3 separate regions of the Homo sapiens genome follow, and all the other regions are linked to region 1. The links come from fine-mapping of genetic effects on gene expression. A gene starts in region 1. Each other region holds a variant in brackets. All regions are shown on one strand. Distances are between the middles of the regions.

Region 1 (2,500 bases):
GTTCTTAAGGCTTAGCCTCACTTGCTGCTAAGCCTGCTACCTGAGTTTCTACTAGGCTGTGACCAACTTTTGAACTTGCCACGATAGCACTAAACTACTGTTATGCATCCTACTGATAAAACTGGACATGTGGCGCTTAATACGCCAAACCAGAATCATCAATGTTTGTTAAAGAACTCTCCCGTTACTATTGTGATGTCCACTCCGGAAGATTATCTGCATCTGGTTGAGGTTTAGACAGAAGAGAAGCAGTTAACAGACACCGACTGTATACACAGCGGTCTGCCGGCACACTGCAAAAAAGCCGATACGCCTTACAGGCTCAGGAAGTTGACTAACCCAGGGAAAAGCCCCATGCCCTCCTCTATGAAAGGGAGTGTGTGGTTGGTAGAACCCAAAGTAAACACGGAAAAATTCATTCAAGAATTTCCTTAAGGCCTACCGTGAAGACGTCGGAGGCAAGTTAAGACGTTGGGGAGCAGGTAAGAGAGACCAGAGTTCAGAAACAGACCGATAATGATCTACCAGCTCCGGTGGGGAGGTCCAAGCTAGGGGAGTTTGTGCCTCCTCTGTGGAGTTGGGGAGGAAAGGTACCGGGCGGGCTCTGGTCCTCCTCCGACAGCCCTTTCCAGCAGGCCCGGGGCTGCTAAGACCCAGGCCTGGCGTTGAGCAACAGCAGCTCTCTTCCACATGGTTGCTGGAGAGCGACCCTCCGAGCTGCCCCGAGGCCATGTGGCTGCAGCCACAGGGTGCCCAAACCCGGTGCACGTTCAAGACGTGAAACCAGAGCAGAGAAGGTGCCGGAGGAAAATCCAAAGAATGGGATGTTGGGGTACAAGACTCACTTCCTTTGGGCTTTGTCCTTCTTGGCCTTGGTCCTTTTCTTTCGGGCCTGGAGCGCAAGCACTGCAGGAGAGAGGGATGGATGAAGGGCGAATGTGGAGGAAAGGAGGCGACCAAGGTGAGGGTGGAGACCCAGCAGGGGCGCCAGGCCCGGCTGCGGGGCCTGCCTCGGGGGCGGCTGCGGGCTCCGGCGAGGCGGCCGGCCGTGGGGCTGGCGGCCCACGGGGCGCAGAGCAGCGCCCGGGCGGGATGCGCCGGAGGGGTCTCAGGCCGGGTCAGGGGGCGGGCGGGTGGGGGTCTGCGTCGCCCGCCAAGGGCCGGGCCCTGGAGTGGCCCCAAGGCGCGAGCCGGCCTGGCGGGGAACAAGGGGCGGCTACGGCCGGCGCCAGAGGACGCCCGGACTGAGGGGCGCGGACCCGCAGCCCAGAGGCAGGGGGTGTGGGGCGGCGCCACCTCAGTGGAGGGGCGCCGCACGTCCGGGAACCGAACCGCGGCAGTTAAGCGAAGCTCCCGGCGCTGACCCGGGCCTCGCCCCGGCGACCATTGCCCCTCGTGGCGGAGGCCGCTCCACCGCTCACCTTTCCGCTCCATGGTGAGACCGGTAATCGCCAGGCGCCTGCGCACTCGAGTGGCGGCGACTCCCGCTCCCGCCGCGGCCCAAAACCGAGCCCGCTCACACTCCGCCCTCAGTCCCGCCCCACCCCCGCCCCACGATGCCGCGCGCTTGCGCGTTGGGCGCGGAGCCTACCACCTGCTCCCGAGGAGGGGGCGGCAAGGAGAGGGAGGGGGCGCAGCGGGGAGGAACGCCGGGGTGAACGTTGAAGGAGTGTTAGAGATCCAAGCTTGGAAACCTGGCAAGGTTAGTTTTGTTCTATTTGTTTAGAAAAGGCGCAGAGAGCGGCAGGGCTCTCTGCATGCTGCTGAGTCAGAGCTTCGGAGGCAACTGGGATCTGCCTCAGTTTCCTGGCCTGTAAAATGGATTAATCAGGCATGTCCCAGTTTCTCCTTCCCTGAGCTATTGTGAGCCCAGTTGAGATACTATTTAAAGAAAATGGAAAAAAATTACATGTGAGAAAGAAAAGGGAGTGGGAGCAACACAAAAAGACTGGAAGGAAAGAACCTGTGACCCTATTATCACTTGAAAAGTAAAAACTTCAAAAGTGAATTTTCTCTTGAAATTTCAAGTTTAAGTGAAAGCTGTAAAGGAAAGAAGGGGAAATGAGAATAAAAACGTTTAATGTTTTCTTATTCTACCACCTTCAATACATGATAAAGCTGTCTTGTTTATAAGTTTTTTTTGTTTTTATTTTCTAAGTGCATTATCTCATTTGATGTTTATGGCAACTTAAAGGCAAAATAGTTATTACTTCCATTACACAAAGACACTAAACTTAAGAGGGCCTGCCTATATGTTCAGAATCTTGGTGTACGACCCAGTTATTTAATCATGAAGCCCTTATTGTATAGCAGGCTCAGCAAAGTTTTTCTTTGGGCCGTACAGTAAATATTTAGGCTTTGTGGACCATAAGATCTCTTTCTCAGCTACTCAACTCTGCCATTGGAGCTCAAAAGCAGTCATAGAAAATATGGGCTGTGTTCCTATAAAGATTTATGTATGGACACTGAAATTTGAATTTCATATAATTTTCACGTCATA
Region 2 (2,852 bases), 98 kb after region 1:
CACCAAAAGTCCAGGCAACAAAAGAAAATACAGATAAATTGGATTTCATCAAAATTAAAAACTCTTCTACATCAGGTGCGGTGGCTCACGTCTGTAATCCCAGCACTTTGGGAGGCCGAGGCAGGTGGATCACCTGAGGTCAGGAGTTCAAAACCAGCCTGGCCAACATGGTGAAACCCCACCTCTATTAAAAATACAAAAATTAGCTGGGCGTGGTGGCACCTGCCTGTAGTCCCCACTACTCAGGAGGCTGAGGCAGGAGAATTGCTCGAACCTGGGAGGCAGGGGCTGCAGTGAGCAGAGATCATGCCATCGCACTCCAGCCTGGGCAACAAGAGTGAAATTCCGTCTCAACAAAACAAAACAAAACAAAACAAAACACCAAAAAACTTTTCTACATCAAAGGACACTGTATCAACAGAGTGAAAAGACAACCTGCAGAATGGGAGAAAATATTTACAAAATTATATAAGATTTACAAACATCTATCTGATAGAAATTTAATATCCAGAATACATGAAGAACTCCTATAACTCAACAACAAAAAGACAAACAACCTAATTTTACAAAGGACAAAGGAAATGAATAGACATTTCTCCAAAGAAGATATACAATTAACCAATAAACACACCAAAAGATACTCATCACCTTTAGTCATCAGGAAAATGCAGAACAAAAGCAAAAACAAAAAACCACGATGAGATATCATTTCATACCTAATAGGTTGGCTATAATTTAAAAAAATGGAAAATAACAAATGTTGGAGAGCACATGGAAAAATTGTACATTGCCAGTGAAAATGTAAAGTGGTGCAGCTACTGTGGAAAACAGTTTGGCAGTTCCTTAAAAAGTTAAATTTACCACAGATTTATGATGTGATTCAACAATTCTAGTCCTAGTTATAGGACTTCAAACAGATCTCCTGTGCCAATGTTCATGGCAGCATTATTTACAGTAGCCTAATGGCGGTAGAAACAACTCAAATGTCTGTTAACGAATGGATAAACAAAAATGTGGTATATAAATACAATGGAATATTATTCAGCCATAAAATGAAATGAAGTTCTAATACATGCTACAATATGGATGAATCTTGAAAACATTATGCTAAGTGAAAGAAGTCAGACACAAAAAGACAAACATATTGTATGATTCTACTTAAGTGAAATAGCTAGAATAGGCAAATTCATAGAGACAGAAAGCAGAAGAGAGGTTACTTGGGCTGAGGGGTGGGGAAATAGGGAATTATTGCTTAACAGAATTTCTGTTTGAGGTGATGAAAAAGTTTTGGAAATAGCGGTGATGGTTTCACAACATTGCGAATGTCAATCATGCCACTGAATTGTATATTTAAAAATGGTCAAAATAGCCAATTTTATGTTATACATATTTCACCACAATAAAAAACATTTAAAAAATTATTCTGAAAGATGTTGATTAACTTTATCAGACTGCTAGAAGGTTCAAAGCACAAAAACAGGGTAAGAGCCCCTGAACTGTAGGACCTAGCTAGTCACAGCGGGTATCAGA[G/A]GTGGTGGTGGTAGATTCTACCTTAGTGACCATGAGTACCACCATGTGGGCACTGTTGGATATGAGACTAGAAGAATCTCATTCCCCTACCATTAATCAGTCCACCATGGCTATCTTATTTATTTATTTTTTTTGAGACAGAGACTTGCTCTGTTGCCCAGGCTAGAGTGTAGTGGCACAATCTCGACCCACTACAACCTCCGCCTCCCAGGTTCAAGCAATTCTCATGCCTCAGCCTCTTGAGCAGCTGGAATTACAGCACGTGCCACCACGCCCAGCTAATTTTTGTATTTTTAGTAGAGACGGGGTTTCACCATGTTGCCCAGGTTGGTCTCAAATTCCTGGACTCAAGTGATCTGCCTGCCTTGGCCTCCTGAAGTGCTGGGATTACGGGCGTGAGCCATTGCGTCTTGCTGGCTATCTTATTTTTGGTCGGGAGTCTGGTAGTCATGGTTGATTGAACAATGGAATTATGAAATATCCTCCTTAGGTACCATAGGGACATCCAAGATCTTTATGCCCAGGAAGTTTACAATCGAAAAGGTACTGCAAGACAAACCACAAAAATGACTGAAGAAAAATTGCACAATAAACTGCATGATTCTGATTACAGGAACTCAGACAAGAAAGAGAAACGGACCCCAAAGGAGTCAGGTTAGGTTTCAGTCCTGCCCGGCTCGGCAGCAGGTGAAAGATTGGACACACGCACCGGCACTGGACGTGGTGTCTGAAGGTGGTGATGTTGATGTTCATGTTCCCAGAAGAGGAGGCCTTCCTTTTGTGTTCCTGTTGAAAGGTCTCCTCATTGTATACTTCACGCTTAACATCATATGCGAATGAGTTTCGCCTGGACTTAGAGCTGAAGCCAGAGATGGCGCTCCTCTCTAGTTGTGCCATTCCTGGATGAGTGGAAAGAGAGCAAATAAAAGAGCATTTTCAGTAATCCAGATCCTCGGCATATTTTTAAGGAAATAAAATTCCTATATAATAATGTTTTACACTTGCATAGCATCTTTCAGTTGTAAAAAACTCTTTCTCAAAGTTGTATAATTTTATGTGTATTCTTTTCATTTTTCAAATGGAGACAACAAAACCCAGAAGTTTAAACAGTCTTTGCTGTTTGATACTTATTAGAGCCAGGACTAGAACCCAGGTGTCCTGCTGGGAGGCCTAGTTTTCTTTATATTCAGTTGTGTTATGTTGTAGGAAAATGATCAAGAGGTGGACAGTATTAATCAACAATTTTCACTGAAAATGCTCACTATCCAGCATATATGAAGAAGTCCAGATGAAGGGTTAAGTGCTCAATACAAGTCTTGTAA
Region 3 (2,852 bases), 75 kb before region 1:
CTCGTGATCCGCCTGCCTCGGCCTCCCAAAGTGCTGGGATCACAGGTGTGAGCCACCACGCCTGGCCAACAGCAGTTTTAAAAAATGACCTTATTGATAGGGAAGCACAGTTATAAAATAAGCGCTAGTCATAGGTCAATTTTGATTAAATCAATGGTACTAAGCAGTCCAAACAACCTCAAGAACTGTAGAGTCCAGGACTTAGTTGGGGCATATTCTCAATTTAGACCCAAGTTTAGGTCCTGGTGGCTCACCAGTGTCAGTTTCTGCAGTTTCATGACAGAACAGCCTTTCTCAAAACTGTACTACCGTCCAGAGGGAGACCACAAAACCAGAAGTTTCAGGATAGGTTTAGGAATCAAATACTATCTCTAAATGTCAGCAGTGCTATGGCTTCTTGCTTGGCATTGCTTATTTTACATTTCAGTTGTTTATTAAGAAACTGAACCACAGTGATAGAGCAGATACTTGTTCTACCCTGAGTTGTTCCGAGGTTTATAGTCCCAAAGCAACAGAGAAACAAATCATGATTCTTGTTCACCAAAACTTGTCAATCATTCCTGATACCAGTACTTTAAAAAAAAATCTCATGGTCTCATATATAGAGTTCAGTAAAAATACTGAAATTAAAGTTAAAAAAAACAAAAAACAAAAAACACAGAGCCAGCCGCGGCAGTGCTATACGCCTGTGGTCCCAGCTATTCAGGAGGCTAGAAAATGAAATACTCTTCAGTGCTAAAAAGAAATGAGCTATTAAGCCGTGAAGATATGGAGGAACCTTAAATGCATATTACTAAGTGAAAGAACCTAATCTAAAAAGGCTACATACTGTATGATTCCAACTATTTGACATTATGGAGACAATAAAAATATCAGTGGTTGCCAGCGAGTGGGGGACGGGAGGGATGAATAGGCAGAGCACAGAGGAGTTTTAGAGCAGTGAAACGATATTGTATATAATAATGATAGATACATTTGTCAAAACTTCTAAAAGAGTGAAATGAAATGTAAACTACTGACTTTGGTTAATAATGATGTGCCAATGTAGGTTCATTGTTTGTAACAAATGTATCACTCTGGAGCAGCAGATCGACAGTTGGGGAGGCTCTGTGTGTGGGGAGCATATAAAACTTATTTGTACTTTTTGTTCAATTTTTCTGTGAACCTAAAACTGCTCTAAAAAATAAAGTCTATTAAGAAACAAACCCAAATAAAACCAGTGTACCATCCTTTGTTAACCTTCTCTAGACTATTGCCTTTGAGAAGAATGGCTTAGAAGATAGCATGAAATGCATGGAAAAGTTAAAACAATGACAATTTAAACAGACTAATTACATTCAGATCCAGAAGTAAATTGCAAACTCCAGGTAGCAGAAAGGAATACTGACACAGCTTGAGGGGCAATCTAGCATTTCATAAGCAATATGGTTGTGTGTGGTCAGAATGCCAAGGAGTGATTACCAAACAGAAAATGA[G/A]GAGTTTCAGGTAAGAGCTGTTTCTATAAAGTAACATGTCCATCATCTGTATCAATGGGCTGGCCAATGGCTGTCTCAAAGTGAGGAAGACAAGTCAGAGTCCTGATGCTTGGCCTTCTGCAGAGATGCAGGTGTGCTCAATGTATTAACTTAAGGGCCCTTATCTTGACCCCAGGTTTGACCACATTAAGAAAGGCTGAAGTGCTGGAAATGTTATTTTAGAAAAAAGGAATTAACAGATGATTCAAATTTCCTGTCTTCAACAATCCATACCAAAGGGAAGTAAAATTCCAGAGCAGGGCTGGAGGCTGGAACAATAAAGTCTGTTTTAAATTTAAAAGGTTGCCAAAGAATAGGGGAAAAGGGAAACACGGAGTTTTTCTTCAATGGTATATAGAGTTTCAGTTTAGAAAGATAAAAAATTTCTAAAGAGGCCAGGTAGGGTGGCTTACACCTGTAGTCCCAGCACTTTGGGAGGCCAAGACGGGAGGATTGCTTGAGCCCAGGAGTTCAAGACCAGCCTGGGAAATACAGTGAGATCCCATCTCTTAAGAAAAAAAAAAAATCTAAAGATATGTTGTATAAAAATTTGAATATAGGCCAGGCGCAGTGGCTCATGCCTGTAATCCCAGCACTTTGGGAGGCTGAGGCAGGTGGATCACTCATGCTCAGGAGTTCGAGACCAGCCTGGGCAACATGGTGAATCCCGTCTCTACCAAAAATACAAAAAAATTAGCTAGGCATGGTGGCACATGCCTGTGGTCCCAGCTACTCAGGAGGGTGAGCCGAGATTGTACTACTGCACTCCAACCTGCGTCCTGCATGACAGAGTGAGACTGTGTCTCCAAAAAAAAAAAAAAGACTAAAAAAATCAGAAATGAAGAAATGAAAGAGGAGACATTATAATGAATACCACAGAACTACAAAGGATAAGAGACTACTATGCACAATCATATGGCAACAGATTGGATAACCCAGAAAAAAATGGAAAAATTCCTTGACAATATAACCTACAAAGATTGAACCATGAAGAAATAGAAACAAGAGATTAGATCTGTAATAAGAAGTCTCCCATCAAAGAAAAGCCCAGGACCTGATGGCTTCACTGCTGAATTCTACCAAACATATAACGAAGAAGTAACAGCAATCTGTCTCAAACTGCCCCTGCTACTGCCAAAAAAAGACAAAAACCATATGATCATCTTATTAGATGGAGAAAATGCATGTGACAAAATTCAGCATCCTTTCATGATAAAAATGCTCACACAATTAGGTATAGAAGGAATGTACCTCAACACAATAAAGGCCATATTTAAGAAGGCCACAGCTAACATTGTACTCAATGGTGAAAAATTGAAAGCTTTTCCTCTAAAATCC

Evidence for each region. PIP is the estimated chance that this variant, and not a neighbour inherited with it, causes the effect. A credible set is the group of variants that fine-mapping cannot tell apart.
Region 2: its variant is the best candidate, but not a certain one, in a credible set for the expression of SRPK1 in whole blood (TOPMed, PIP 0.65).
Region 3: its variant is the best candidate, but not a certain one, in a credible set for the expression of SRPK1 in whole blood (TOPMed, PIP 0.65).

The regions. Positions count from the first base shown.
Region 1 is chr6:35,919,623-35,922,122 of GRCh38, forward strand. SRPK1 (SRSF protein kinase 1) reads right to left here and starts at 1,476. Exons shown (of 16, transcript NM_003137.5): 1 at 1,422-1,476; 2 at 846-906. The coding sequence starts at 1,434. RefSeq lists silencers at 1,139-1,728, 1,759-1,818.
Region 2 is chr6:36,017,281-36,020,132 of GRCh38, forward strand. It overlaps SLC26A8 (solute carrier family 26 member 8), which reads right to left. Exons shown (of 20, transcript NM_052961.4): 2 at 2,240-2,429. The coding sequence starts at 2,427. Among named protein-coding and RNA genes, the nearest start is that of SLC26A8, 5.9 kb to the right of the region's middle. The variant G/A (reference allele first, on the strand shown) is at 1,531.
Region 3 is chr6:35,844,236-35,847,087 of GRCh38, forward strand. All of the region lies in intron 13 of SRPK1 (SRSF protein kinase 1), which reads right to left. Among named protein-coding and RNA genes, the nearest start is that of LHFPL5, 40 kb to the left of the region's middle. The variant G/A (reference allele first, on the strand shown) is at 1,476.